Regions from separate parts of the Homo sapiens genome. Here region 1 is linked to region 2. The links come from fine-mapping of genetic effects on gene expression. A gene starts in region 2. The other region holds a variant in brackets. All regions are shown on one strand. Distances are from middle to middle.

Region 1 (2,892 bases), 52 kb after region 2:
CTGGCAGCCTGGGCTCTAGAACCCTCCTGGGTTCTGAGAACTGAACAGGTGCAGAGCACAAGACTCCTGACGAGCGTCACACTCCACAGGCTTTGCCTGCCCAGTGATGGGAACACCGGCTACCACCTCTGTGAGCTGCACGGCTTCGAGAAGCCAGGGCCTCAGGAGTCCTGTGCCCCATACACCCCATGAGGGCGACCTTGGGGGTTGCTGTGGATGAGGTTCGGTGTGGGGGACAGTGGGGGCAGGTGCCGCAGGGGGCTCAGCTAGGGGAGGGGCTCTGAGGCGAAATGGGCCCCCCCACCCCACTCAGGAGGGACAGGCTGAGGCCACAGCAAGGAGGGACTCCCGTGCCGCTCACACTGCTTGTGCTCACGAGCCCCCCATGCCCAGGGGCCTGCCTGTGCTGCTTGCAGCCCCTCCAAGAGGCTCCACTGCCAGGCAGGGCCCAGGAGCAGCTGCTGTTGGGTGGCACCAGGCCTAGCAGCACCTACCTCAGGTCTCGGCCAGGGCCCCTGCTCACCACAAGCTCCAAGCCCCTGGCAGTGGTTGGCTGCCTCCCCCTCCTCCCTGACTCAACAGCCCAACACCGGGGAACGTGCCAGGACCCTGAGGGACACGTACACAGGTTCTGGGGGTCTCCAGAAAGCACCCTGGGCACCGGCTCTGAAGCCTCTGACGGCACAACAGGTTCCACGTTGGCCTGCAGGTGGAAAGGAGAGTTCAAGTCAGGGTCCATGCACCCCAGAAAGCCAGGGCTCCGTGGCAACTCCACGGACCACGTACCCTGGAAAGGGACCCGTGGCCGCTGTGTGGACCACACACCCTGAAAAACGAGGGCCCGTGACCGCTCCACGGACCACGTACCCGGGAAAGGGACCCGTGGCCGCTCTGTGTACCACACACCCTGAAAAGCAGGGCCTCCGTAGAGCCTAGGCCCCACACTGTCAGTACCCCTCCTGCTTGGCCATCACTGGCACGGCTGCCATCAAGCTGGGCAGACAGGGCCACCAGGCCACCTCAGCCCAGCGCCCCTCTCCCTCGGAGGTGCCTCCTGCCTGACCCTGGAGAACCCTGTGAAGATCACCTTTGCAGAACAACAGCCAGGGACCGACCCCGAGAGCCCACAAAGCGGGGAAGCCCCCCGCCCCTGTCTCTGTGCAGCCAGCCCAGCCTCCACCTCACCTCGTGCGGTGGCTGCTGCTCCTCCCCGTCCATGGCTGGGCGGCGGCTTCCTGCACCTGTGGGGAGCCTGAGGAGAGGCATGAGAGGCGGGGTTTCCACCTGGAGCCCCAGACCTGGCTCAGGACTCACTGCGTAGTGCCCTGTCAGTCTAGAACCATCTGTTGGGTGGGCCTGGGGGCTCCTTCCCCCATATCCCCAAATGCCTCCTGCCCATCAAAGGCTGCTGAGGTCCAGGGTC[G/A]GTTCAGGTCAGGCCCGGGTGGGGAAAGGCCAGCAGGTCCCCAGACACCCCAGCATAAACCAAACGCAGACGGGCCCAGGGCGGGTTGCTGGTGCACAGGCCTCACTCAGAACAGGGCCAGAGCTGCCCAACCCTCACTGCGGCACGGCGGGCACACATAGGAAGGCAGCCCTGGGGTCCACACATGATCTCAGGACACAGCAACGCAGCTGCTGACACATGGCAAGGACCCCAGGGCCTTTGTACAAAAGCCACTTCCCCTTTCAGTAACTACAGCCTGGGCAACAACACCGGCACAGAGTCAGTACAGACGGAGGAATCCACAAAGCACACAAATCAACGTGTTTGGACCTAAGACCTTCTCTCCCACTTTAAGAGACAAACATGGTGTGGAAGGAACCACGGTAGAAACCCGGACAGGCTGGGGCAGCCACACGAGGGGGCTGCCCCGAGGCATCACAGCTCCCCACAGACTCTCAGAAACCAGGAGCTCAGGCCGGGGGCCCAGGAGCCTGAGGGAAGGAAGAAAACAGCCAGGCGCCTGCAGCACCAGAGGCACGCACCGGCCAAGACCCACAGAGCATCGGCGAGACCTGCGCGGAGCCCCTCGAGGCGGGGCCAGGGACCAGCAGGCTGTCCTGAGACTGGCCACAGGCCCTGCTGCACCATGTGGCTCTTCCTGAATGTTCTCAGCCACGGAATGCCAGGAGTGACTGTTTACCAAGTTAATGGCTCATGCATGTCCTGGCGGATGGATGTGTCACCAGGCAGAATCATTAAAATATCCCAAACAGGCCAGGCGCGGTGGCTCACACCTGTAATCCCAGCACTTTGGGGGGCCAAGGTGGATGGACTGCCTGAGCTCAGGAGTTCGAGACCAGCCTGGCCAACATAGACCATCCTGGTGAAACCCCATCTCTACCAAAAATACACAAATTAGCCAGGCGTGGTGGTGCACACCCGTAATCCCAGCTACTGGGGAGGCTGAGGCAGGAGAATCACTTTGAACCCGAGAGGCTGAGGTTGCAGTGAGCCGAGATCCTGTCACTGCACTCCAACCTGGGTGACAGAGGGAGACTCTGTCTCAAGAAAAAAACAAAAGTAAAAAATAAAAATGAGCCGTTGGAAACCATTCTGAGCTGTCTAGTCGTGCAAGGTATTGTGGTTTTGTCTTGAAGCGTCTGCGTCAGTCAGACACGAGCATCTGGCGAGGAAACGACGGGGCTTGTAGGATGTGCTTCAGAGGGGCCACTGCCGGGTTCTGCACTGATGCCTGCGTGCATCTGGGGTCATTTTCATGTCACTACTGCTGCCCACTTCTCAGAACTCATAAGAAAAAGGAACAATGAGCAATAAGACGCTATGTCAGGTTCCTTTCCTCTGCAAACCCTGTTGGCACACAGCCACAGCAGGCACAGACCTCGGCCCCAGCCAGGACTCACAGACCCAGCTGGGTCCTGGCCACCCAC
Region 2 (2,892 bases):
TGGCTGAACATCAGGGGCAAGGAGGCGGCTGCCCTATCCATGTTCCATGTCTCCACGCCACTGCCAGTGGTGAGTGACCATGCCACGCGGCAAGGCAGGTGCTGGGGAGCCCATGGATGTGTACAGCTGCTGTTTGCTGGCATTGTCATGATAGCAGGCCTCTGGTCCTTCCTGTCTCCCTGCTCCTACTCCAGGGGCCCTGAGATTGGGAGGTTGGGAGGCCAGAGCCAGCAGGTGTCCGTAGATGAGGAGCTGGGCTCTGCTGTCCCCACAGATGACCGGTGGTTTCCTGAGCTGCATCTTGGGCTTGGTGCTGCCCCTGGCCTATGGCTTCCAGCCTGACCTGGTGCTGGTGGCGCTGGGGCCTGGCCATGGCCTGCAGGGCCCCCACGCTGCACTCCTGGCTGCAATGCTTCGGGGGCTGGCAGGGGGCCGAGTCCTGGCCCTCCTGGAGGAGGTAAGCTGGGCAGGGTGGAGGTGCTGCGGGGTGGGACGAGGGAAAGGACCAGTGACTGCTTCCGTCTTCGCCCCTGGTCCAGAACTCCACACCCCAGCTAGCAGGGATCCTGGCCCGGGTGCTGAATGGAGAGGCACCTCCTAGCCTAGGCCCTTCCTCTGTGGCCTCCCCAGAGGACGTCCAGGCCCTGATGTACCTGAGAGGGCAGCTGGAGCCTCAGTGGAAGATGTTGCAGGTGAGGCTGACTGCGGAGGCATGGCCCTGCCCTGGGGCCTGGCTCTGCCGCACAGATCGGTGGGGAGGGCAGGGCAGGGGAGTGCCCTGAACCAGCTCCAGCGCCGGAGGCCAACTGCGCGCCTCTTCTCGGCTCCTCCTGTAGTGCCATCCTCACCTGGTGGCTTGAAATCGGCCAAGGTGGGAGCATTTACACCGCAGAAATGACACCGCACGCCAGCGCCCCGCGGCCGCGATCCGGACCCCAAGCCCACGGCTCCCTCGACTCTGGGGCACGGAACCCCGCCCACTCCCAATCCCCGCGCCCCGCCCTCTCCCACCCGTGCTTCCCCCGCTCCACCCCTCACCTCACCTCGCCCCCGCCCCACCCATCGCGCCCCGGCCCGTCCCATCGAGGCCCATGCAACCCACGCTCGGTCCCGTTCCGGCCCCTGCGCCCCGCTGCGCTTCGCTCCCCGCCCTTGCGCCGTTAGTAAACATCGCTCAAACGAAACGCTGGCTCTGCCTCCTTTACTGAGCACGCTCGGCCTCGGTCTCTCACCCGCGGTGCCGGACTCAGGCCGGAAGTATGCCGCGGCCCAGGCCTCACCAACTTCACGCGCTGCCGGCGTTCCCGTGACGTATTTCCGGCGCGCCCGCCCTAGTGCTCTTCACACTGGCGCGGCTGTGACGCGACGGAGGCGGCGAGAGCGGCAGCCGTGGGCACTTTCCACGGGTGAGGCCTGGAGAACGGGTGGACGTGCAGGCCAGAACCCGGGACCCACCCGGCTGAGCCCCCAGACTCTCCGCTGCCCACGACCCTCGGAGTGGCACCCTCTCCTGGCCGTCTCCTCTCGTGGGTCCCGAAGAACGGGTGCAAAGCCGAGTTCGTCCGCTGTACTGCGCGGGCGCGCGTTTCGTTCTTCGGTTTTGCCACGGTTCTGTGACTCCCTAAAGGTTGAGGGCTACTGAATTAGAAGAAACGCCGAGCTGGCTTCTGGTGGGCTGCCGGGCGCCGGGCAGCGTGCTTGGACTGGGGAGGGCAGGGCGTGTTTACTCTGAGTAGAGCAACCGCAAGACCTCCTTTAAAAAATACCAGTTCTGAGCTTCGGCATTGGAGAGGCCGCCTGTCATTCAGCCTCTTCGGACCCTCTCTCACTCCCTGTCTTCCGGAGCGTGAGTGAAGCCCGGGTGAGGTGTTTTCCCACACGCCGGGGGCCCGGAGCTGAGAAGGGGCATGGCCAGCATCACGCAGCTGTTCGACGACCTGTGTGAGGCCCTCCTGCCGGCTGCCAAGACTCACCTGGGCCAGCGCAGTGTGAACCGGAAGAGGGCAAAGCGGAGCCTCAAGAAGGTGGCCTACAATGCTCTTTTCACAAATCTTTTTCAAGATGAGACTCAACAGCTGCAGCCTGACATGTCAAAACTACCAGCGAGAAACAAGATCCTCATGTTGTCCTTTGACTTGAGAGTGGGTGGCCTGGGCCCCAAGGCCGACCGTTTGGAGGAGCTTGTGGAGGAGCTGGAAGCAGCCCCTTGCTGTCCGCTTTTGGAGGTGGGGTCTGTTTTGGACCTCCTGGTTCAGCTGGCAGGGAGTGGTCCCCCTCAAGTTCTGCCGAGAAAACGAGACTACTTCCTTAACAACAAGCATGTGGGGAGAAACGTTCCGTACAGCGGCTATGATTGCGACGACCTGAGTGTGTTTGAGATGGACGTTCAGTCTCTGATCTCCAGAGAAGAGTGTTTGTGTCACAGCATGATCCAGGAAACACTTCAGGTTATGGAGGCTGCTCCAGGCACTGGCCTGCCCACCGTCGGGCTCTTCTCATTTGGTGACCCTTGTGGTGACAGGTTCGAGAGAGACACCCGGGTCTCGCTCTTCGGGGCCCTTGTGCACAGCCGCACTTATGACATGGACGTCCGACTGGGCCTGCCCCCCGTGCCAGACAATGCGGACCTCTCTGGGCTGGCTATTAAGGTAGAATGTTTAGTTTTTCCTCTTTCATCTCTCTCGGGGTTTGGAAAATGCTTCCTGTGACCTTTCTTCTTCTTCTTCTTCTTCTTTTTTTTTTTTTTTTTGAGACAGTGTCTCACTCTGTCACCCAGGCTGGAGTGCAGTGGCGCGATCTTGGCTCACCTTAACCTCCACTTTCTGGGCTCAAGCAATTCTCGTACCTCAGCCTCCCGAGTAGCTGAAATTACAGGCACCTGCCACCACGCCC

What was found. PIP is the estimated chance that this variant, and not a neighbour inherited with it, causes the effect. A credible set is the group of variants that fine-mapping cannot tell apart.
Region 1: its variant is the best candidate, but not a certain one, in a credible set for the expression of TUBGCP6 in whole blood (TOPMed, PIP 0.65).

The regions. Positions count from the first base shown.
Region 1 is chr22:50,191,387-50,194,278 of GRCh38, reverse strand. It overlaps TRABD (TraB domain containing), which reads right to left. Exons shown (of 10, transcript NM_001320485.2): 2 at 1,186-1,252; 3 at 625-703. The coding sequence starts at 1,218. Among named protein-coding and RNA genes, the nearest start is that of TRABD, 6.9 kb to the right of the region's middle. RefSeq lists enhancers at 1,540-1,629, 1,710-1,759, 2,520-2,669, 2,860-2,892 and a silencer at 2,320-2,369. The variant G/A (reference allele first, on the strand shown) is at 1,424.
Region 2 is chr22:50,243,475-50,246,366 of GRCh38, reverse strand. It overlaps TUBGCP6 (tubulin gamma complex component 6), which reads left to right and starts at 1,344. Exons shown (of 25, transcript NM_020461.4): 1 at 1,344-2,648. The coding sequence starts at 1,908. It overlaps HDAC10 (histone deacetylase 10), which reads left to right. Exons shown (of 20, transcript NM_032019.6): 17 at 1-69; 18 at 275-457; 19 at 540-692; 20 at 837-1,184. The coding sequence ends at 860. RefSeq lists a silencer at 972-1,041 and enhancers at 1,512-1,561, 1,972-2,251, 1,825-2,755.